Linked DNA regions of Homo sapiens. The protein of the gene in region 3 purifies or fractionates together with the protein of the main gene of each other region. This does not show direct contact. Each region holds a gene or a part of one and is shown on either strand. Other genes may lie near its edges. The genes, in order: TPD52, DYNC1I2, MAP4, MAP7D1, PLEKHA5, WDR62 and SLTM.

Region 1 (3,500 bases), on a different chromosome or scaffold from region 3:
GCTGAAATAAGGTTTATCAAACTCTGTGATTGTCTCCTGAATTGTGATTTTGGCAACATACTTAAAACCAAAGCAGAAAATTTTAGGATTTGTTGAACTTTTAATAGTTTTTAATGTACATGGAGTTTTCTTATATTTGTCCCTTAAAAAATCCCTAATGAAACTCTAGTTGTAAAATTAAATGCCCTACCTCTTGTCTTACATGCATTTATCTATTGAAAATCCCTCTTCCAACCTTCTTATGTGAAGTTATCAAAAAATCTGTTCTTGCTACTGATTGTACTTAACAGAGCTGTAAATTTTTAAAATAAACACTGAGTTTTCCTTATGTTTTCAACCACGAGTATTCTAATGCTCTGTAGTATCAGGCCCAGATTCTGTTGTTTTTCTACTTTCTCTCATACCTAGGGCTTGAATACAATACTCTGCTTACAGTGAGAGTTCAGTGAACATCAAATGATTTAAAATACGTTAAATTGCATCATGCCTTTCAAGAGTTTCCAAGCATTAAGCTCAGCGCAGCACATTTACTGTGTGTGGTATTTCCTACTTTGATAGAGCAGTGTTGCTAACTAGAGCATACATTGTGTAGAAAACCCTCCTGACTACCTTTTATGGAGCTGAATAAATATGTATACTTGAGTGCTCTCATGTTAGTCATAACCTTTAGTTTAGCACTGTTATATAGAAGTGACAGTCACGTAGCCCACTACACATTATACTAGTTTGAATTTAAACAAAGCAAAACAACTTTATAATTTTAAGGGGAAGAGGAATGGTTCCTGAGGCCAAAAAACTAGAGAGGAAAGGCTTCAAAAAAAGAATAACACAATAATATGTCACTATCATTTTAACATTGTAATTGTGCCTTAGAAATAAATAACAGAAATGTGGGGTATCATTTATTTAAAAATAAAGCAAATGTAGAGAATAATGGATAATAATTTTGAGGGTCTACTCCCAAGTCTCTGGGTGTGACCCACCCCATCCAGGCTGTTAATTTATTTGGTCAACAGTTTCGTGATTTCCATATGGTGCTGATGTCTTTGTTAGCTCTTCTTCACTTCCTGCATTTATTTTTATGTGGCAGGCTGCCTAGTCCCTAGGGGAATAGCTGAGTGGTAGGAGGGGTTGTGATCTTTTAGCAAGATTTCAAAACAGAATAATGTATGCATGTAATAAAAACAAATACGCTCACTCACAGTGCAAAACCAAAAAGAACACCCAAATCCCTGGAACTTCTGTGCTACTAAGTCTTTTGTTGTAGGCTAAGATTATTTTCCTTTTGGGGTTAATTATTTCTGCCTTAATTATTGACTGTTGTGAAATCTCTCTTCTGAGACATTCCCAAATTTTATTTAAACTAGTGGGTACCAGCTGTACTGAAACCATAATTTTAGCCATGTATTTTTATTAGAAAAATGTTTCCAGGGGATTAAGGAATTTTAATATTTAGTGGAAGTTTTAAAAAAGAATGTAAAAATGCCTTTTGGAACCTAAGAATAGTTGTCTATTTTAGAAAAATCAGAAATATTGATGGAGAAAAAAGAAAATTACCCATAATCCTGTGCGAGAATGAGAAATCATAGTTAGCATATTAATTTATACCTGTTCATGTATCTATGCTTTAAACAAATCACAATTTTATTATTATTTTTTTTAACAGTGTCTCGCTCTGCCACCCAGGGTGGAGTGCAGTGGCGTGATCTCGGCTCACTGCAACCTCTGCCTCCTGGGTTCAAGCAATTCTCCTGTCTCAGCCTCCCAAGTAGCTGGGACTACAGGCGCATGCCACGACACCCAGCTAATTTTTTTGTATTTTTAGTAGAGATGGGGTTTCATCATGTTGGTCAGGCTGGTCTCGAACTCCTGACCTCAGGTGATCTGCCCTCATTGGCCTCCCAAAGTGCTGGGATTACAGGCGTGAGCCACTGTGCCCGGCCAACAAATCACAAAATTTCTTATTGAATATTGCATTTTATAACTTGCCCTTTTAAAAAAACCCTAAATGTATTTAAAAAATACACTTTAATGGCCGCATGTGGTGGCTCATGCCTGTAATCTCAGCACTTTGGGAGGCCAAGGCGGGCGGATCACCTGAGGTCGGGAGTTGGAGACCCGCCTGACCAACATGGAGAAACCCTGTCTCTACTAAAAATACAAAATTAGCCGGGTGTGGTGGCATATGCCTGTAATCCCAGCTACTAGGGAAGCTGAGGCGGGAGAATCGCTTCAACCTGGGAGGCGGAGGTTGCAGTGAGTCTCTCTCTCTTGCCCAGGCTGGAGTGCAATGGCACCAATTTGGCTCACTGCAACCTCCACCTCCTGGGTTCGAGTGATTCTCCTGCCTCAGCCTCTTGAGTAGCTGTGACTACAGGCGTGTGCCTCCACGCCATAATTTTTCTATTTTTGTAGAGATGGGTTTCATCATGTAGTCCAGGCTGGTCTCGAACTCCTGGCCTCAAGTGATCCTCCCGCCTCAGCCTCCCAAAGTGCTGAGATTACAGGTGTGAGCCACTGCGCCTGGCCTAGAGCAGCTCCATTTTTAATGGCCATTTGTATGTATTTATTTATAGATGTAACATTTTATATACTGTTATAGACAATATTTAACTTGTTCCCTGTTGATGAACATTTACATTTTGCCTTGTAGGGGAGGAAAAATTTCTCCCTACCCTTTTAGGGTTTCTGGCGAGGCCTAGGAATTAAACCAACATGAGATAGATTAACAGGAGAAAAGCATGCAAATTTTATTTAGTGCTTTTTATGTATTACATACCTTTTACCCTCACAAGAGGAATGAAGACTCAAGGAAGTGGCTTGGCCTGATCGATTATATACTAGGTCAAAAAAAGAGTGGCAGTTGTGGAAAAGTAACTAGGAAGGTAAGGTTTAGTTTAGCAAGGTTTCTTTATGCAGATTTCTTTGGGCTTGGACTTCCTGTGATAAGAATGTTTCTTTCTTCCTGGTAGAGGGAGGACATCTTTCATATGGGAGCTTCATCTTCTGCTTTCAGGAAAAAGAGAGGAGGTTTGGGTGCCCTTCTTAACACCTGCTGTTTTTCAAGTGCCTTTAGCCCAAAATAATCAGCATGCTAAAGTGGAATGTTTTGGGATGCTGTGTCCTGAACTCCTTCACCCTGATATTTTGCTGTTAAAACAAAGCTGCAGCAAATGTATGTGTATGCAAGTCATTCCATAAAAATGCCAGTGTGTCTGTAGGAAGAATTCTTAGAAGAATGTGGCTGTTCAATTTTGATAGTGCCAAATTCTGCTCCATAGAAGTGGTGCCAGTTATACTTCCACCAGCATGTGCGAGCGTTTGCTTTCCCTTGCCATGTGGCCAGGATGTTGCCACACTTTTCCATTGTTGCTTGTCTTATAGGGGAAAAATGGTTTCTCAGTATAAGTCTTACTATATATATTTAATATAAAGGTAGTTTACTTCTTTTGATATGTTTACAATCTACATGGCATTTTCTGTGAAATATCTGGCCATAT
Region 2 (4,122 bases), on a different chromosome or scaffold from region 3:
TCTCCCAGGCTGGAATGCAATTGTGTAATCTCAGCTCACTATAACCTCCGCCTCCTGGGCGCAAGCCATCCTCCTGCCTCAGCCTCGTGACTAGCTAGGACTACAGGCGCATGCCACACACCCTGCTAATTTTTCTATTTTTTGTAGAGACGGGGTTTCACCATGTTGCCCAGGCTGGTCTCTAAGTCCTGAGCTCAGGTGATCTGCCTGCCTCGGCCTCCCAAAGTGCTGGGATTACAGGTGTGAGCCACTGCGCCTGGTCCATTTTAGCTGTTACCACAACACCCATCACCATTGCTGGCACATGGTAGGCAATCAATAATAATTTTTTTTCAAATTAATACATGAAAACTATTAGGAAAGAAGTAAAAAAATAACATAGCTATAAAGCTCTTTGAATGTTAGGTTATTGGGAAAAGCTGTGGAAAGCCAAGGATTTTCTTTCTCAAATTTATTTTTAGAATATTTTTTTCTACACAAAAGACCACAGATAAGGCAGAGAAAGATAAGAAAAAGACCACAAGCCCAAGGACTTGGAATTTGAATCATAAAGGTTCATTCTAGACTTGGGCAATATCTAGAACTTCTAGAACAATCAGTTTTCTAGAACATAGAAAAGATATTACCTTGGTGTTAGCTTTAACTCCTGCCAAATAATGCTTTAAATTATTTAAACTTTAAAAAGGTGTGTCAATGTATACATTGCAGGTAAATTCATGTTCCAGTAACTTTTGTTTTCTTTGTATGTTAAAAATCTAACTGTGGAAAACATTCTAGCTTGGTTTGAGAGTCCAATAATACAAAATGCTTTATTTCCTAAAATTGTTTGAGAGAAAACCAAAATGCTACCACACTGCAACAAAATACTAAAGAATTATTTGCTATGTCAGTTGACATATTTTTATTTAGATTTTGCCTAAGATGCCACATGAAGCCTATATAAGACATTCTTTCCCTAAAACTTACATATGTATGTACATATATATATATAATGTTTTACATCCTAAACAGTCTACTTCACGTCTTCACCAAATGTGCAGCAGCGTGATTCACAGGTTCACCACTGGAAAATAGACCTTAAAATTCCGCCAATATTGGGTCAAAGATCTTACACTATAACACATACTACACTGTGGGCACGGATCAACAGACGAGAATACTTTATACAGAAGCTTCTCGACGGAAGAAGGCCTTGGAGTGGGAAATCTAAAGGAGGGGACACACTACATGTCCCAGCACACCTTGCGACGCCCAGCGACCACAATTCCCAGAACGCACTGCTCGTCGCACGCAGGTTTTCCTTGTTGCCGGGGTTTGTAGTTCTTCTCGATCGTGTCAGTTTGTAAGGCGAGGGCGGAAGTTGGATTCCTGGCCTGAGAATATTAGGCGTAGTTTTCCAGTTTTTGGCAAAGCGGAAATACTTAAGGCCCCTGGGTTGACTGGGTTCTTTGTTTTATCTACCGGCTTCTGCTTTACGACAGGTAAGTCACGGAGGGGCTACAATTCCTCGCAGCAGGGCCCCACCTTTTATTTCTGGGAGCGACCTCGTTCTGGTGAGGCTATTTGTCCCTAAGCTCTCGCCGTAGCAGCCGCCGCCCATCCCTCTTTGTGTGCTTTGGAAAGCCGCGGAGCTGGTGGTGGCTACAGTTGGTGTTGGGGGCTTAGGCGAGGGACGTTACCGGGAAGTTGCAGGCGGGAGGACTCTTCCCCATCCAGTCACCTGACAGGTGGGTTGACTGTTCTTCCCTCAAGGCCTCCCTGCCTGTGTTCCACGTCGCAACTCGAAGGGCGGCTTGGCAGTTCCTGCTGACATCCCCGCCCGGCCCAGCTTTGGGGAGGAAAGGCGGGGAGACCTGGGTGCGGTGACTCATTGCGGCCCGGCGAGAGGAGTCCACTCCTTTCCCTTCTCGACCCTCCAGAGGCGGCCTGGGGAGCCTTGAGGCTTGTCCGGCGCCCACTGGCTTCTTCCGGACGCCCTGCCGTGGACCGCGCCCTCTTGGCCGTGACCCCAGGGGAGAAAGTGATTCGTTTTCGCCTTGCCCCATTTTACAAATTAAGGCCATCTCTACTTGCCTTGATAGTGTCTCCCCTCACCTTATGTGTGATGGAAAGCCCCCGAACACGGAGGTTCTAGCACAAAACTCTAGAGACTCTCTTCTCTTGAGTTTTAAGAACGTGAACATGTCGGTCATGGAGGAAGGCTCTGGCTTCTGTGAGGATGAGAGGATTGGTCAGCTGTAGTTCAGCTGGTCAAGACTTTGTTGTTGGGCTTTAAAAATGCGCTTATTTTAATATCAATTAGTGTTGGTATATCTGTTTTACAGTTGACGTTGAACAAAATATAATGTGCCTAGCGTAGCATACAGTTACGTATGGAAGTTCTCTTCACCAGCCGTTTGTATGGAGCTGTTTAGAGGTGTAGAAAGAGTGGAATAAGAAACACGGTCTCTTGCTTTTAGTTTGTTCAAACAAATCTTGGAAGATATTGTGTATATATTTCAGGTCTGCTATGTCAACTTTTCATCCTTTTCGTATGCTTGAAAATTATCAATTCGCTTGCCAGTCTTAATGGAGTTTAGTAGCTGAAATTTCCTTTATCCACTTCTTAGTAGGTGAATTTCTCCTCTTGACTGACTTACCTTTGTTCAGATTTAACAATTGTGCTTTTTAAGAGATTTCCCCTAACCTCTGGAAATACAGTTTTCCAGAGGTTATTCTCCTAGTTTTCTTGATCTAAAGCATTTAATACTTCACTTGTACAGAGACATTGAAAGAGATTGATCATTAGGCAATAAGTCAATCATGTGGAGAAGGTAAGGAGTTCCTGGCTCCTGCCTTATGCTCAGCTGCTAGGCTACTTAAAAAAAAAAAATCCTAATTCATTATTTCTTCCTAAAACTCAAGCTGAAGTAGTGTTTATGCAATTGGTTTTTGAAGCTCAGATTGTAATTGTGTCTACCGTATCCATTATTCATTAGCCAGTGTCAATTGTAATGTTAAGGTCATTCTGCTGGATGTTGTGAAGGCAACAAAAATAACTAAAAAACAGTCCCTGATTTCAAGTACATTACAATCTAATAGGGAACATTTCAGGTATGTCCACAAATAATTGTACTAAAAGTGCCATCAGAGGTATACGTAAGGTGTTATTGTGGAGAAATACAGTCATATGATTTGATAGCTAATGATGGTAACTCCTGCGTTTTGCTTTAGTATTACTACAGCACTTTTAGAACTTACAGGAAAGTTCAGTTTGACCTATTGTTTTTTATCAAGTTTCTATGAATGCAATAGAATTGGTAATAGTTTTGATCTGTGTCATATAGCTTAAGAGCTTCTAAATGCCAAACCATGTCCTCTGTTTTAAGAGCCAGTTTTGACCTTTATCTTGGGTACCTAATATATTGTCATCAAAAACTTTGAGACATTGTGTTCAGTTTGTGTATGCGAACATTAAAGTGCTTACTATGGGCTAGCTACTATGCTCAGCTCTAGGTAATATTTATTATATATATTTGTTTATACATTTTTTAAGTCTTAGTAATAATATATATGCTTCCTTTATTTTATCTTTTAAAAGTTTATTTTTTAGAGACGCTCTGTTGCCCAAGCTGGAGTGCAGTGGCATGATCACGGCTCACTGCAGCCTTGACTTCCTGGGCTCCAGCAATCCTTCCAAGTAGTTGGGACTACAGGCACATGCCACCATGCCGCCTAATTTTTTATTTTTCTTGCCTTTTTTTTTTTTTTTTTTTTTTTTGTAGAGATGGGGTCTTGCTTTGTTGCCCAGGCTGGTCTCAAACTCATGGCCTGAAGCAGTTCTCCCACTTTAGCCTCCCAAAGTAAGCTACTGCCCAGCCCCATTATTTTAAAAGTAAGGTTTTTGTGCTTTTTTGAGATAGCATTGAACTATATGGCCTTTCGGGACAGTTCTCTTCTTGGAACACTAGTTTTTTCAACTGTGCTGCTTTTACTAACATAATGATTATATGTTTCTAAGGTCACAAACATGTCAGACAAAAGTGAATTAAAGGCTGAGTTGGAACGTAAGAAGCAGCGACTGGCCCAAATCAGAGAGGAAAAGAAGAGAAAAGAAGAAGAAAGGAAAAAAAAAGAAGTATG
Region 3 (3,500 bases):
TTTAGTTAACTCCAGTGCAGCCAGACTGGTAGCTGAGAACTTTGTCTCAGAGAGTCTCAGAATTCCTTTATATCCTTCTGAAGAAGCCCCCAAAACTGCAATAAGTTCTCAGTCTAAGCTGAGAGTAGAGGAAGAGAGCAAAAGTAACAAGTCAGTACTACAAAACCAAGACAAGAAATTGCTGAAGCAACATGAATACAAACCACAGCCTGCACCCCACCTGAAGACTCCTGTAGATAAAAGCCAGTCAGTAGGCCCTCTCAATCTGAAAGGACCCCTAGCAGAAGTTTCTGCATACAATGTAGAAACCCCTTTGGATATCAGACTTAAAGAGGGTTGCTCTCCTTTCTTGGACCAAGAGGTTATGGGTGTAGTTTCAAAACCCACAGCAGCAAAAGAAATACCAAATTTGGTACCCACTTTGATAGCAAGTAATCCATTAGAATGTAATCTAAAAGAAGGGAATAATGAAAGTAAAATGACTAAACTGCAGAATGTCAAACTGAAGGAGTTTCCTGAAGGAGCTGAAGAGGATAAAGAACTAAAAAAGGAAGCTTTTCCCAACGAAAGACAAGAGATCAGCATCTTTACTTCTGAGCAGCTGCAGGGCCAAGTGTTGGTACAGGTCCCTGGGGTAGAGAATGAACCATTTAAGAGAATGGCAGGTGATGGCAAAAGCAGGAAGGGAAGGGGAAGTTCTGGGAAAATGAGAACAGATTCTGGGAAGGTAAAAGCAAAATCTGAGCTGCCATTTCTTCTGGACAGCCAGAAGGACGGAAGGGCTGTTCTCATACCGAGTGAGCCAGTCTCTAAAACTGAAGGAATGACTACTCAGGATAAGAGTGAGGAGCTGGGGCTGAATTCTTCAAAGCAACCAGGCACTAAGGCTGATCTCACGGAGGCAGTGGTGATGGGGGAGCCTAAAGAGATGACTCAGCCTAAGGTGGCAGGCACCATGCAGGCATTGATTCCTTTGGAAAGTGGATCAGGCATGACTCAGACTTCTGGTGTTAGCACAGAAACAGGAGATGTAGTCAAAGATATGGGTGTCAATAACCAGAGCAAGGAAGGAAGGTGTCCATGGAAGGATCATGAGGCAGCTCCCTGGATTTCTGAAAAGCCTAAAAAGAGAGGCAATGAAGGCAAAAGCAAAAAGTTTAAAAATAATTATTCCACACAGCCTGCTAGAATGGAGAGGAAGGAAGAAATCCTTAACCCACCTTTTGAAGGGAAGGATGGAGATACTGGTAGTATTCCCCATAAAAGCAAGGAAATAGGATTTACTTTCCCCAAAATGCATGATTCTTCGTTCTCACATACACCAGATACACCCACAGTGGAAGCAGTTGACAGGAAGGGTGGAAATTTTCAGGTTAATTTTGTTGAGCTTGGGACTCTTGGGGAAAACAAGATAAGCACAGTCAAGGCTTCTACTGTTACTGAACCACCTGCCAAGGTGACAGATGTGAGCTGCCAAGAGCAAATCCAGGGGGCAGGATTTGTTCCTTCAGTAGTATCTGAGGAGAATAAGACAGATGCAGCCAATAGATACACTGCAGTGGCTGACAAACCAAGTAAAAGGAGTAATGATGGAAAAAGTAAAAAGGTTAAAAATAGTTCTCCTGAGAAGCACATTCTGGAGAATAAGATAGATGCAACAAAAATACATGTTCCCATGGAAACCACAGGGGACCAGGGAATTGAAGGAATGGCCTATATGGACGAAAATAGAAATATTACATTTACCTGTCCCAGAACACCATCAGAGCTGATAAATAAATCATCTCCTCTAGAGGTTCTGGAATCAGCAGCCTGTGAAAAACTGCCCACTCCTACTCCTCAAGTAGTAAAGGAAGGTGATTCCTTTCCAGATACCTTGGCAAAAAATGGGCAAGAGATAGCCCCAGCCCAGATTTCCAAATCATTAATGGTAGATAACTACACCAAAGATGGAGTCCCAGGTCAAGAAAGACCCAAGGGTCCCTCTGCTGTTGTGCCCTCTACAAGCACAGGAGGAGTTGCTCTACCTATTACAACAGCCATAGAAACAGTTAACATTCATGGAGATCACTCTCTTAAGAATAAAGCTGAGCTTGCTGATTCCATGAAAAATGAAGCAGGGATCGATGAAGGGCATGTGATAGGAGAATCTGAGTCAGTGCACAGTGGTGCGTCTAAGCATTCAGTAGAGAAAGTCACAGAGCTAGCAAAAGGTCACCTCCTTCCTGGAGTGCCAGTAGAAGACCAGAGCCTACCAGGAGAGGCCAGAGCCCTAGAAGGATATGCAGATAGAGGTAATTTCCCAGCACATCCAGTGAATGAAGAGAAAGAGACTAAAGAAGGGTCTGTTGCAGTTCAGATTCCTGACTTACTGGAAGACAAAGCACAAAAGCTCAGTTTTTGTGAGGACCAAAATGCTCAAGATAGAAATTCCAAAGGTTCAGATAGTTTGAATAAGAAGGTAGATCTGACTCTTTTGTCTCCAAAAAGTGAAAATGATAAATTGAAAGAAATTAGTCTGGCTTGTAAAATCACGGAATTGGAAAGCGTTTCCTTGCCAACACCAGAAATCCAGTCAGATTTCTTACATAGCAAAGTCGAAGCTCCTCCTTCAGAGGTGGCGGATACGTTAGTAATAATGACTGCTTCCAAGGGTGTTCGACTCCCAGAACCCAAAGATAAGATTTTGGAGACACCTCAGAAAATGACAGAAAAATCTGAATCAAAGACACCAGGAGAAGGGAAAAAGGAAGATAAAAGCAGAATGGCAGAACCAATGAAAGGCTACATGAGACCCACCAAGTCCCGAGGACTTACTCCACTTTTGCCAAAGTCTACAATCCAGGAACAAGAGAGACATAAGCAACTGAAGTCCGCTGGTATGAACCTGCCATGGGGAAATGTGTGTGCTTGTGGCTTTTGAGTCAGCATCAGAAAGGCAAAGAGCTTGTGTCTTGGCTCCATCCAGACTCTAATCATCCTTGTTAATCATTGGTTTGTTGGCATGAAACCTATAACTGCTACGGTGTGTTTTCTGCAGCCAATGTGTTCCTTGTGTCCTGCTTGAGGAGGCTGGTAACTTGGTTGCATGCCTTTTTTACCCAGCACTGAACGTTGAATTTTAGGGGAAGTTGAATTTTCAATGAATTGTCTAACAAAAGACCTATCATCATCCATTTCTTAATTTTTTTAAAATTGTGCCTCCTATGTATCAAGTTTACAGCTAAATTTTAATCATTACTTGGTATAAGGATTCACAGGAGGAAAGAAAATATTTCATGTCTAGCTATGTGCATGAGATTTTTTTCAATTTATATGTAGCTTGTGCTGGTGGGACTAAATATCCAAACTGCTTTTAGGTTAAATGAAATCAGTCCACCTCCTTATGAGGAAATGGTGGCCTCAAACCAGCATTGGTAGGCACCGATTTATTTGTGTTTCTAGTAATGGGAAATGATCTCTCAATGATACAGATACATTTTTTGACCAGTTTGTTGCTT
Region 4 (3,500 bases), on a different chromosome or scaffold from region 3:
CTCTAACATAAACCAAGCACTTTCCCTATCCCATTTGATCCTGATGACAATCCTAAAAGGAAAGTTCTATGATGGCCCCCATTTCACAGGTGAGAGAATTTACTCAGACAGATTAAGTGGATTGTTCATGCCAGTGTCAGAGGTAGGATTTGAATCCAGAGTTGTCTGATGACAAAACCCTTAAAACCCTTATGTCATGCTGTTTCTGGTAGGCAGTCACATTACCCCGCCCTGAAGCTCCTGCGTGTTCTCTGAAGAAGGAAGTGATTCCGTGGTTCCCCCAGGGAGACTTCCCCCACAAAAGTGAAGGGTGCAGGTGGGGCAAGCAGGCACTGAGCTCAGAGCACAGGAATGTAGGGAAGGCAGGCTCCTGCCCAGGCTGGCTCCCAAGAGGCGGGAAGTGAGGTAGGGGAGAACAGCCCACCTCCAGGGGCAGCGAGAGGGAGTGCCTGGGTGAGGGCTGGTTGTGGCGTGGGGGGTGCACAGACAGCACCTCAGGCAGGAAGCATGGGAGAGGCAGAGGCACGAGGCCGAGAGAAGACAGAACAGAGATCAGCACCTCTAGCAAGAGCCCTCCTGGCCCTCACTGCAGATTCCTAGGTGACAACACTAGAGCAGGCGAAGACAGAGGCAGGCAGAGGGCAGAGACACATGGGAGACAGACGTGCACACAACAGAGACAGACACCAGACAATGTAAACAGGGCCTGCACAATGGCGAGAGACAAGACATATTCTCCTCTCTCTCTCACACACACACACACACACACACACACACACACATACACACACACACATGCAGAGGAAACAGACTTACTGGGATTCAAAACTCTACACATATCTGAGACACACAGATGTACCCACAGAGTACGGGGCCAGGTACCTCCTCTAAGAAACAGACAAAGCCTCAGAGACACACACAGCACACAGAGACACAATGTCCCCGGAATATTTATACAGCGTCATCCAGGTCACTTCTGCTCCTTCTGAGCAAATTATTTCCCTAGGCCCAGAGAAAGTCCGATTAACAGGAGCAACAGCTAATGCTTTTGTCAGGCACAGCTAAACACATTAAACTCATTAGTTCATTTAACCTTTGCCATAATCCTATGAGGTAGATATTATTACCCCATTTTACAAACGAGGAAACAGGTTCAGAGATTAAGACACTTACTTAAGCTCCACAGCTAGTGAGTAGCAAAGCTGGGGTTTGGACCCAATCAGCATGACGGTCTTTACCCTGCCTGCATCCCAGTGGGGACAGCCTCCTGGGTTCCCTCTCCTGGAGAGATCTGGGCTGGGAGAATAGGAGGTCAGTAGAAAGGGCAAACTCTGGGGAATGCCTAATTGTGGGGCCGGGAGAGGAGGGACCCTTAGGGGGCAGCATTATCCCTGGCCTGGACAGAGCTAAGCCGGCTCCGAGAGGGAGTGCCCTAGGAGAGGGCAGCGTGCTCCAGCAGTTGGGCAGTGGGGCACTGGGACCAGGCCACCGGCTTCTGTGGGTGATAAAGCCGGGAACCCGACTGAGACTACAGATCTGAAGGAGCTCTCTGGCCCGGCTGGCGGCCATTGTTCCCAGCCTCCAATCAGGAGCACCCACTTCCTGTTATTTTAGGCGGCAGGAAATGACCCCATCCCGCAGCCTGGGCCCCACCACATCCCTCCCTCAGCCCCAGCAGGGCTGCCCAGGCTGTTGCCCAGATGCTGAAGGCAGAGGCCCAACCTCAGGCCAAGGCCTGGAGATGCCCCCCCAGCTGGACTATTACCACCACCTGGGTCCGGGGCCTTCCTCCTGGTTCAACTGCTTAGGCTCCAACCTGGCAGGCTTCCCAGAGGACCCTGGGCTCTGCTGGGGCTACCTCTGCCAGCCAGGGAAAAGATTATGGGGTCCCCAAGACCAAGATGCCCACACAGGCCAGTCACGGGAGGGAAGCAGGCCAGACCTTGTCACTGGATAGCTTAGCCATGATAATTCAGCTTAGAGGTTTAGGGCACAGACTTCAGAGTCAGACAGATTTGAGTTCAAATCCTGCCTCTGCCAGTTGCTAGCTGTGTGACTTTAGGTAAGTGATTTCATCTCTCTGAGCCTCATCTGTAAAATGGGGATAATGCTAGTCCCTACTCATGAGACTGTGGTGAGGAACAAATGAGACAATGCCCGTGACATGCTGAGCATTGTGCCTGGCACAGAGAAGGCCCTTAATGAATAGGAGATAATAAGTCAGAGATAATTAATGGGAAATAACTTGGTTCACCGGGGAGTCTCTACCTGGCTCACATCATCTCTTACAACTGCTGAGGAGCGCTAGTAAGGGCAGCAGTACCATGTTCCCTACACCCTCCCAGGCTCTCTGCTCCCTTCAGGGCAGAGCTGCAGCTGAGAAGTGGTGGAGGAAACACTGAAGGCTGTGCCCCTGGGTGCCAGGCAGAGATACCACCAGCCAACAAAGCTGCATTATCTGGGTCTGGCTAGTTGGCTCCCTCACTAGCCCCAAGGCCCAGCAGGGACCTAAGGACATGGGTCCCAGCTGCCCTGTGGCCTAACTTCCAGCCTGGGTCAGACCTGAGACCTGACCTGATGGCCCTCAAGTATGGCCATTCTAGTCTGGGCCCAGCTTTCAGTCCCTTCCCTCAGCCCTTCCCCACTATCATGTTAGGAAAGGGGACCTGAGCTGGCCTAGTATCCCTTCCACCTCATTTGCATATGCGTGACTGCACATTAGGGGCTCATTAGAGGCCTCATTATTGGGCCCACCAGCCCAGGAAGGGACTAGGAAGCTGTCATTGGGAGGTGCCAGCCAGCTGGCTGCTGGATGTATGGCCACAGCCCACTGCGCCAGTCTCACCAACGTCTACTCATCCTTTCAGATCCACCTCAAATGCTGCCTCCTCCGTGAAGCCTTCCACAAGCACAGCCCACTGCACACTAACACCATTATACCTGGTTTCCCTGCAGTGAACACATCTGCCTTCCTCGCCGCGTTAAGAGCTCCCCAAGAGTCAAAACTCCGTCTGATTCACTTCTCTGCCGTCCACATAGACTACACCGAGCTGGCATAAGGTGGGGCATCAGCATGGGTGTGCTGGATAGCCGGTTGCACCTGTTTCTTGGGTCTTCTCTCCTGTTCCCACTGTTCCACTTCAGGTATGGGGCCCCTCCGTTCCCTGGATACACCCTAGCTCATGTCTGCCTAGAACTCCCCTCTCCGCTGCCTTCTTGTCCTATACTTACCTCCTACAATTCTAATCAATCACATCTCAGGCTTCTGACGGAATTAAAAATAATGACAAAAAACAAATAGCTAGGCTGGGGGTGGTGGCTCACGCCTGTAATCCCAGCGCTTTGGGAGGCCAAGGTGGGAAGATCACGAGGTCAGGAGTTCGAGACCAGCCCGGCCAATGTGGCAAAACCCTGTCTCTACTAAAAATACAAAAATTAGCCGGGCGCGGTGGCAGGCGCCTGTAATCCCAGCTACTCGGGAGGCTGAGGCAAGAGAATCG
Region 5 (3,084 bases), on a different chromosome or scaffold from region 3:
TAATATTTTGATTCAATAAACAGATTATGACTGTACACATATCCTTCCAATAATAAAGGATATTCAGAGTTAAAACTCAAGTATATTTCCAGGTTCCTTAAATTGTTATAGGATTTTATTTTGTTTTCTTCTTATTCCAAGAGCAGTGGCATACTGTAATGAGGTATGATTATTGTCGGATATTTTCTAGTCTCATGGTATGCAACTACCACAAATAACTAAAGGCATGAAAACTTGTATTATTTCATATCTTCCTATTATGCATATGCCATCTTTCTGAACTAGTGGTTTTGGCAGGATTTAGGAAACCTTTACAAATGACACTACGATGTAGGCAGCTCAATAATTATTACGTATTTTAGTGGAGTTATGCAAATGTTTGCTCATTTTGTTGATCTTTTGGATTCAGCTACGTTTGGTACTTTTTTTTTTTTTTTGCAGTTGCAAGATTTAATAGAGTGAAAACAGAGCTCCCCTAAAATGGGAGGGGACCCAAAGGGGGTTGCCGTTGCCAGCGGTACATTTTTTATTCTGTATTGCTATTTATAATCACATTATGTTGGCCGGGCACAGTGGCTCACGGCTGTAATCCCAACACTTTGTGAGGCCGAGGCGGGCGGAACACAAGGTCAGGAGATCGAGACCATTGTGGCCAACATGGTTGAAACTCCGTCTCTACTGAAAATACAAAAATTAGCTGGGCGTGGTGGCATGCACCTGTAGTCTCAGCTACTCTAGAGGCTGAGGCAGGAAAATCACTTGAACCCGGGAGGTGGAGGTTGCAGTGAGCCAAGATTGCGCCACTGCACTCCAGCCTGGGCGACAGAGCGAGACTCAGTCTCAAAAATAATAAGAAGGCCAGGTGCAGTGGCTCACACCTGGAATCCTAGCACTTTGGGAGGCCGAGGCGGGCGGATTGCCTGAGTTCAGGAGTTTGAGACCAGCCTGGGCAACACGGTGAAACCCCGTCTCTACTAAAATACAAAAAATTAGCTGGATGTGGTGATGTGCACCTGTAGTCCCAGCTACTCAGGAGGCTGAGGCAGGAGAATTGTTGGAACCCAGGAGGCAGAGGTTGCAGTGAACTGAGATCGTGCCACTGCACTCCACCCTGGGCAACAGAGCAAGACTCCGTCTCCAAAATGATGATAATAATAATAATAATGAAGAGAAGGAGGAGGAGGAGGAAGGAAGAAGAATTGCATTACATTATGTTTCCTTGTGGGGCCGGGTATAGTGGCTCATGCCTGTAATCCTAGCACTTTGGGAGGCCAAGGCAGTCAGATCAGTTGAGGCCAGGGGTTCGAGACCAGCCTGGCCAACATGGTGAAACCCCGTCTCTACTAAAAATACAAAAATTAGCCAGGCATGGTGATATGTGCCTGTAATCCCAGCTAGTTGGGAGACTGAGGCAGGAGAATCGCTTGAACCCAGGACGCAGAGGTTGCAGAGAGCCGGGATCATACCACTGCACCCCAGCCTAGGCGATAGTGATACCCTGTCTCAAAAAAAAAAAATTGCATTATGTTTCTTTGCTTTGTGAATTAAGCTATGGAAATGAAGAAAAATATCCTTTGATGTATTGTATTTTAGGATTTTCATGGCCATGCTTGTCAGTTCTGTTGTTACAGAATGTCACCCTTAGTTACTTTGGGAAATGGTAATTAATTAACGTTGCAGGTGTCAAAGTAATTTCCTCTCTCTTATTTTTCAGCTATACTGACTTCTGTTGAAACCATTCAAAGCTAAAGACATGGACCTTCAGCAGTGTAAGAAGATATTGTACAGTATATTTTAAATCTATGAAATTCATAGTTCTGATGCTTTTGGTCACAGAGCATCATTTTATCACTTCTGGAAAATGTTTATTCCAAAACAGCTTTAATGGCCCATATGTACACTTCGTAATCTCAAGGTTATTATTCTGACACCAGCTTGCTGCTATGATTTCAGAGCACATAAGTAAAGGTGCTTTTTAATGTGCAGTCTATTTCCAGAGCTTACTTAGTTGCTGATTTCCAGATTTCGATGTTTCTTAAGTCTAGGTGAATTTATATATATATTTTTTTGCTTTTCATTTTCTAAAGTTAGTTATTATTTCCATTGAAGCTTGTTTTCTTTTTTTTCTTCCCATTTTAGCTACTGCAGTGCTTTTGTTTCACACTTGATTTGTAAAAATTTTATATATATGTATTTAAAATGTGCCATTTTATTGCTAAGTGAAGTATGTCCTGTTTTCTGCTATAATTCTTTCTCGGTCAGATTGCAATGTCAGCAGTTACTGCCACACTCCTGTCAGCTTAAACACAAATGTTACTGCTTATCTTTTCTTAAAAAAAAAAAAAACAAAGTGTAGGTATTTTGAAGTACTGGGCTTATATTTCATTGGAATACATGTGTACAGCAATAAGCAGGTTTCCAAATCCGGTACTTAGTTTGTGTACAAATGTAATTATGTTCATTGTGTATATATTATACAATGAGCACATGTAATGTATTAAAGGCTACTTACTATTGTTTAAATGCAAATGTTCATATCTCATTTCTTTTTTTATCATGTTAAATAAATGTTGATGTTCTTAAATCAGTGTTAGAATTTTTGTTCTTTCCATCCAAAATTGAAAGTCTTAAGACTCAAGAGACCTCTAGAAGAAAAGGTACTCTGTTAATTTTATAATCCTAGACAACATCTTAAAAGATCCTTGTCGGTCCAACCCTCCCATGTCAAAGTTGAGGACCTTGAGGCTCAAAGAGATCAATTGAGTTGGCCACAATTTAATGACAGAATTTTGACCAGACTATAGTTTTTTCTGACTTTTTCTCTAAGTACATTACATTAGCTCATTACCACTAGAGGAGTTTAGTTTTGTGAAGTCTTTTACCACGTTTCTATTTGCTTCCATGTTTCAGAAAGTAACTTCAAGCATCAGTAGTCCTGCTCTGTTTAGGGATTGGACTTTGAGAGAGGTGTGTAAGGCAGCTGTTTGTCTGACATGGGTAGCTAGAAACCGTTTCATCGTAAGTAGGACCCTCAGAGATCATTTTCTCTTACAATACATTCTTTGCAGATGTTCACGCTCTTCA
Region 6 (2,856 bases), on a different chromosome or scaffold from region 3:
TTCCTGTTGTGTGACCTGGAGTAAGAGGCTTACCTCTTTGGGCTTCAGTCTTCTAAAAAGTAGTCATAATGGGGTCAGGGGCAGTGGCTAACACCTGTAATCCCAGCATTTGGGGAGGCCAAGGCAGGAGGATTACTTAACGATCACTTGAGGAGTTCAAGGCCAGCCTAGGCAACGTAGCAAGATCCCACCTCTACAAAAATATTTTTTAAATTTTTTTGTTTGTTTTGTTTTTAAATGGTAATAACAATCTCTTCTGCCCCAGAGGGCTTTTACAGGAATCCATGCTTAAGTATAGGGCCTGGGCTCTTAGAGGTGCCCGTGCAACTTTAGCTCTTTCTCTACTATTTTCCAAACAAAATTCATTTTTATCCTATCCTATAATTTGTCATCTTCATTGTGGTATAATATACATCCAGTAACATGCACAGATTTTAGGTATACAGCTTGATGAACTATCTGTGTAATTCACGTGTGTCCACTACCCTGGGCAAAATCTGGAGTGTTTTCTACCTCATAGAAACCCCCTTCTGCCCTTCCCAGTCAGGTCCCCGCACCAGGATAACCAGTGTTCTGACCTCTCACCAAGGACTGGGTTTCCTATTCTTGAACTTGATATAAATAGACACGTAGAGGGTTGGGCCTCCTATTTTTGGTGCCACACCTCTTCCTCATCTGTAAAGGGACTGATAATGCAGGGGCAGACCAGGACAAGCTGGTTGCGAGTGGAGGGCATGGCACAGGCCCTGGTTCACAGCCTCCAGCAGTGGGGCTGCTGGCATGGTTCCTGGCGCACTGTTGGTGGCCCCAGCCATGCCTGCCTCAGAATGGCTGTGCTGTCTTCCCCATAGTCAGAGAGTCCCCAGGAAGCTGGCCGCGGGCACCCCTCCTTCCTGCCCCAGCAGAAGGAATCATCTGAGGCCAGTGAGCTCATCCTCTACTCTCTGGAGGCAGAAGTGACAGTCACAGGGACAGACAGGTGGGTGTCCTTTCCACCAAGGGAGCCTTAGTTGGAGGAACCCCCAGCTGATAGCTGCATCCTGGAAGAAGTGCTCTCTGCCTTCCCAGTGGGCTTGTGGGAGTGGGGACAGTTGAGGCCTGGATGGGGCAGGAGCCCAGCCTTAGTTCCCTGGTTCCAGGTGGGGTACAGGAGGGCCTGACCTGGGGGAAGGAGGGGGCATTTGGAGGAGGCGGGGAGGCTGTCGCAGTGCTCCTGCAGGAGCAGCGGGTACAGGTGCCTAGGGGCTCCGGGTGGGGCTAGCTGTTGAGTCTCCAGCTGAAGTCCTTGTTCCCTCTCTGCCCCCACTGGCACTGCAGCCAGTATTGCAGGAAGGAGGTGGAGGCCGGGCCTGGAGACCAGCAGGGCGACTCCTACCTCAGGGTGTCCTCCGACAGCCCAAAGGACCAGAGCCCGCCTGAGGGTGAGTGCAGGGCAGGCAGGGACCCTGTGACAGTCTGTGCGTTCAGCCAAGCCCCTTTCTGGGCACCGATGGTGACTTTGACCCAGTACTGAAGCTCAGAGTCTGTCGAGGAAGACACATGTGGTCCCTGCTGCTGCCTGAGGATTCTGGGCCCAGCTGCCTACAGCTGAGAGCCCAGCTCTGCCACCTCCTTGATGTGGAACTTCCCTTATTCATAAAATGGGGGGCAGCTGCTCTTACCATCCCTCCTCCAGATGGGGAAACTGAGCCCAGGGAAGGGTAGCCCTGGCCCTGGCTCACCAGAATGGTCAGGCTGTGGGCTCCTGACCCCGACTCTGTCCTTCAGACTCGGGGGAGTCAGAGGCCGACCTGGAGTGCAGCTTCGCAGCCATCCACTCCCCAGCTCCGCCTCCTGACCCTGCCCCTCGGTTTGCCACGTCGCTGCCCCATTTCCCAGGTAAGCAGGGGCCAGACACGCAGGGGACTCGCTGCTCGGGCCTGGCTTAGGGCCAGTCACAATGTCTAAGCACAGGCCCTGCACTTGGAGCCCACTGAGCCTGGAAGACGGGGATCCCTGCTTCTCAGCCTGCGGGCAACAGGGCAGGGATGGGTGGGGCCCGCTTTCTCCATTTCAGGTGGCGTCTGCTGTGACTCATGGTGTTGGCTCCTCTTGTCCCTCCCCTCCTTCCCTGTCAGGATGCGCAGGTCCCACAGAAGATGAGCTGTCCCTGCCCGAGGGACCCAGCGTCCCCAGCAGCTCCCTACCCCAGACTCCGGAGCAGGAGAAGTTCCTCCGCCACCACTTTGAGACACTGACTGAGTCCCCCTGCAGAGGTAGGGCCCTGCCTCACCCACACCTGCCGAGGCCGTCTGTGCAGCCTGGGCACAGCATTGGCGTCCCTGGAGTTGGCTCCCCAGCAGGGCCAGGAGGGTGAGTGGAGAGCAACTGCTTCGTTTTTTTTGAGACGGAGTCTCGCTCTGTTGCCAGGCTGGAGTGCGGTGGCCCAATCTTGGCTCACTGCAACCTCCGACTCCCTGGTTCAAGCAATTCTCCTGCCTCAGCCTCCTGAGTAGCTGGGATTATAGGCATCCACAACCACGCCCTGCTAATTTTTTGTATTTTTAGTAGAGATGAGGTTTCACCATGTTGGCCAGACTGGTCTCAAACTCCTGCCTCAGATGATCTGCCCGCCTTGGCCTCCCAAAGTGCTGGGATTACAGGCGTGAGCCACCGTGCCCGGCCCACTGCTTCACTCTTGACCTGAGCCTCACGATGCCTCCTCACCCACTGCCCCTGCTCGTACCCTGTGTCTGTACATAAGGGTTTCTGGGGAGTGCCCCGCTGGGCTGTGGGCTGGCCTAGGGCCAGGGCTGCTCGGCGGGAAGGGTTATGAGGGTCCCCTCGGGATCTTCCCCTAGAGCTCTTCCCCGCAGC
Region 7 (3,500 bases), on a different chromosome or scaffold from region 3:
TTCAAATGTTAAGCTGTCTTGTCCAGGGGTTACTTATCATGGGATTTCATCCATTCATTGACGACAGCGTTAGGAACTACCAGAGATACTTTTAGCAACTTAGATTATTCTGTACAATAATTGACACACAACTTTACTAAAAGGAAGTAATCCTTGTAGCACATAGAACCCATTTTCTCTTTTTTAAGATGAAGTCCAAATGTGCCTAGCTTCCTGTGTATTTAGTTGACAACAGATTGAGAGGAGAGTGGGATTGAGGAGCAACTAGACCAGTGATTCTCAAACCCTATGTGACCAAATTCCCTTTTATATTAAAAAAAGTTGCAATGCCTTTACTCTCCTGAAATGAAATTGATGTATAACATACTTAAGCTATACTAACAATTTCAAAAAAAGAAAAAAATGTAATGGCTTAACTATAATATAAAGGAGAAATAAAAGTAATTTATAATAAAAATATGTATTCCAGATATGAAGGTTTAGGCATGACTTAATGAAGTAGTCAGATGTTTGCATCCCTATTTAGACTCACTGAGAATGGGACAGCTTCAAATACAGACTGACGTTGTATGTCATTTAATATGTTGTATTGGTTAGTAAATACCAGAAGTAGTGTTGACATTATGACATGATTTCTGAAATGGTGAGCAACTCTTGGTAAAAGTCGCAAGAAAGTATAATTTTCCTTCTATTTATATGGAGTTGCATTATTGGAAATTCTAGATTATAGAAATAATATCAAAGCAAACAGTATTTATTAAAAATGGGGTTGAGTTCTAGACTGACATATTATTTTTGCTTAAGGTGTTTGGTTGTTTTTAATGGTGTGCATGTCCGTTGTGGCATCTGAAAGGTATGAGAGGTGTTGGATGGTTCTTGTTGTGTACGACTATCCTCACTATTCCATGCATCAATAAGATACTTAGATACCTTCATCCTCATACACTAAACACTAGTATCTGCCCCATGGTCATTGTGATAATTAAAAATATCCCATTGATTTCTGTAGAAATAGTACTGACCCATTGAGAACCACTGGGTTACTAGAGAAAGACATGCTGATGACAGAAAAGGATGCTGACTACCTTACAGTAAGAAAATAACATTAAAAGTCTAATACAATAACAATTCAGTTCAGTGAACAATTGAACTACCTCTGACTCAGAAAAGCATGTTACCTGGAGCCATCTATTATAGGATAGTAAACATTCCAAAATAGCCCTTAAGGACACCATTTTGTTATATGTAGTATTTGCTATTATTGATGTTCATTGTTATGATCCCAAATCATCAAAGTATGTACTTGTTTAAGGAGATACAATAGAATATATAATAGGGATTAGAGCTTTTTCCATCAAAAACAAGTGTTGGAAGTTGTAGTTTTGTAAATTTACATATGCAGATTACATCCTTCTAAAATGTCAATTAATTAATGGACTATTATAGTAATTTTTATTTAAACAGGAATCATCTAAGAGGCAACTACTCTATATTATAAAATTTAGCTGCTCAGTTGACAGTCTTATTTATAGATAAGTGAAAATATTGGGATCTGTTTAAAGTTTTACTTTGAATTCTCTTTCCAATTACATTAAAACTACTTAGATTGAGTTGAAATTTAAAATTGCCAACCTCAAGGAAAAATTCAAATTCAAAGCTATTCTCTTTCACACAGTGCTAGCATAATTTAAGTATTTCTAAATACTGATTTTTGGTAGACGAAGAGAGATTGCAGAGAGAGAGCGTCGAGAGCGAGAACGCATTAGAATAATTCGTGAACGGGAAGAACGGGAACGCTTACAGAGAGAGAGAGAGCGCCTAGAAATTGAAAGGCAAAAACTAGAGAGAGAGAGAATGGAACGCGAACGCTTGGAAAGGGAACGCATTCGTATTGAACAGGTGCAGTCAGAAAATCTTTTCATCTTAAATAACTCACCTTTTTCAGACTCTGTGATTTTAGCCCTAAAACTTGCTTTACTTGTTGTAAAGCGTCTATAGAATGAGTTTAGCTAAGGAGCTTTTAAGTGTCCCTGAAAGATAACAGTGAATTAGGTACTAGTTAAAAATAGAATTAGTAGTGACTTTGTTCTAGATAACTGGTAATAATTCTAGCTCTGCAATATCATGGCAGCCTAATAGTCTGAGCATAGGACTATGAGTCCAGAGTAGTTGTAATCCAGGCTCTGTCACTATCCCAGTCTTAGAAAATAATAACGATTTCCTTACATATTATAGTGGGAATGATTTCCCAAGGCTGGAAGGAAATAATGCCTCTCTTTGCAGAATTGCACCTCAGGGTTTTAAGGCACTTAGTCTCCATGCATATTAAGAATGCTATTTCTAATTCCCTTTAGGTGCTTTTGTTTTAGTCGAATGATTAAACTAAACTTGACCTTCCCAAATACTTGCCAACTTTTACCACCCAGTCCTTGTTATTTTTAATGTTGCAGAACAATAGCTACAGCCTAGATTATTGAAATCAAATTTAGGTGTCATAGGTTTGTGTTTTGCCTGGTCTTTGCTTATGATGGTTTCTTAGCAACAGGATTAAAACAAGGTTGCATGTATACTTATCTTATGTTTTCATTTTGCCTTGGTTGGTTCTTCATTCTGTGTTGTCTGAAGGAACGTCGTAAGGAAGCTGAACGGATTGCTCGAGAAAGAGAGGAACTCAGAAGGCAACAACAGCAGCTTCGTTATGAACAAGAAAAAAGGAATTCCTTGAAACGCCCACGTGATGTAGATCATAGGTAGTTACTCATTTTATTCCTTAACAGTTAACCTTGCTGTTTTATTCCCTTTAGGCTAAGACTAGAGAATTAGAAAGTACAGGCTCCCATCACTGGAATAAAAGTCATGATCAACAGGGATGGGAAGGATTACAGTACTGGGGTAGACCCAGTGCACTAGCAAGTGGGAACAGTCTGTGTTTCTTTCCCTGTCTACCTTTCTGATGCCAAATGTTTTTCATTATGACTGGAAATACATTGTCATAGTAGGCTTCAATAATAATTAAACAGATTTTGAACATTCTTAAAAAGGTAGTGCAGGTAGTATAGAAATGGAAGTCATAAACTTGAGATTGAAAGATAGATTCTATTGTGTGTTTGGATTCATACTTCATATAGATTTAAAAACATAAGTATGCCCATTTAATCTTCTTAACATAAATTCTATGAAACTGAGTTGATTGTGTAGAGAAATAGGTGGAATGAATGAACTGTGCTTCTGACTTACCACTCTAACGTTTCCAAAGTTAAGGATAACTGAAGAGGTTGTGTGAACTGGTTAGAATTTTATTATAAAGTGGTTTCAGGTATTTTATTTGTCTTTTCCATTTAATGGTATCATTTCTCCTGAATGCTAAATGTCTTTTCCATTTAATGGAAAAGACAGGCAGTTTTTCAACTATTTTCTCTCCTGTTAAATTCCTCTCACACTATTTGACTTTATGTAATTCAACAATTAAGTCTTTGCTAGTTTGTACTCCTGATGTGTTA

What was found.
Region 1: the proteins of MAP4 (region 3) and TPD52 fractionate together in Homo sapiens (co-fractionation; one large-scale study listed by BioGRID). This does not show direct contact.
Region 2: the proteins of MAP4 (region 3) and DYNC1I2 fractionate together in Homo sapiens (co-fractionation; one large-scale study listed by BioGRID). This does not show direct contact.
Region 4: the proteins of MAP4 (region 3) and MAP7D1 purify together in Homo sapiens (affinity purification with mass spectrometry; one large-scale study listed by BioGRID and IntAct). This does not show direct contact.
Region 5: the proteins of MAP4 (region 3) and PLEKHA5 purify together in Homo sapiens (affinity purification with mass spectrometry; one large-scale study listed by BioGRID and IntAct). This does not show direct contact.
Region 6: the proteins of MAP4 (region 3) and WDR62 purify together in Homo sapiens (affinity purification with mass spectrometry; one large-scale study listed by BioGRID and IntAct). This does not show direct contact.
Region 7: the proteins of MAP4 (region 3) and SLTM purify together in Homo sapiens (affinity purification with mass spectrometry; one large-scale study listed by BioGRID and IntAct). This does not show direct contact.

What each region holds. Positions count from the first base shown.
Region 1 is NC_000008.11:80,165,065-80,168,564, reverse strand, and holds part of TPD52 (tumor protein D52), read left to right. Parts: intron 1-3,500.
Region 2 is NC_000002.12:171,686,147-171,690,268, forward strand, and holds the start of DYNC1I2 (cytoplasmic dynein 1 intermediate chain 2), read left to right. Parts: upstream 1-1,322; 5' UTR 1,323-1,481; intron 1,482-1,608; exon of another isoform or gene 1,609-1,727; intron 1,728-4,000; 5' UTR 4,001-4,009; coding exon 4,010-4,117; intron 4,118-4,122. UniProt on the Homo sapiens protein: Acts as one of several non-catalytic accessory components of the cytoplasmic dynein 1 complex that are thought to be involved in linking dynein to cargos and to adapter proteins that regulate dynein function.
Region 3 is NC_000003.12:47,908,417-47,911,916, reverse strand, and holds part of MAP4 (microtubule-associated protein 4), read left to right. Parts: coding exon 1-2,879; intron 2,880-3,500. UniProt on the Homo sapiens protein: Non-neuronal microtubule-associated protein. Promotes microtubule assembly.
Region 4 is NC_000001.11:36,159,160-36,162,659, reverse strand, and holds part of MAP7D1 (MAP7 domain-containing protein 1), read right to left. Parts: intron 1-3,500. UniProt on the Homo sapiens protein: Microtubule-stabilizing protein involved in the control of cell motility and neurite outgrowth. Facilitate microtubule stabilization through the maintenance of acetylated stable microtubules.
Region 5 is NC_000012.12:19,373,817-19,376,900, forward strand, and holds the end of PLEKHA5 (pleckstrin homology domain-containing family A member 5), read left to right. Parts: intron 1-1,714; coding exon of another isoform or gene 1,715-1,749; 3' UTR 1,750-2,584; downstream 2,585-3,084.
Region 6 is NC_000019.10:36,099,897-36,102,752, forward strand, and holds part of WDR62 (WD repeat-containing protein 62), read left to right. Parts: intron 1-851; coding exon 852-979; intron 980-1,317; coding exon 1,318-1,421; intron 1,422-1,767; coding exon 1,768-1,878; intron 1,879-2,117; coding exon 2,118-2,255; intron 2,256-2,840; coding exon 2,841-2,856. UniProt on the Homo sapiens protein: Required for cerebral cortical development. Plays a role in neuronal proliferation and migration.
Region 7 is NC_000015.10:58,888,680-58,892,179, reverse strand, and holds part of SLTM (SAFB-like transcription modulator), read left to right. Parts: intron 1-1,718; coding exon 1,719-1,899; intron 1,900-2,625; coding exon 2,626-2,750; intron 2,751-3,500. UniProt on the Homo sapiens protein: When overexpressed, acts as a general inhibitor of transcription that eventually leads to apoptosis.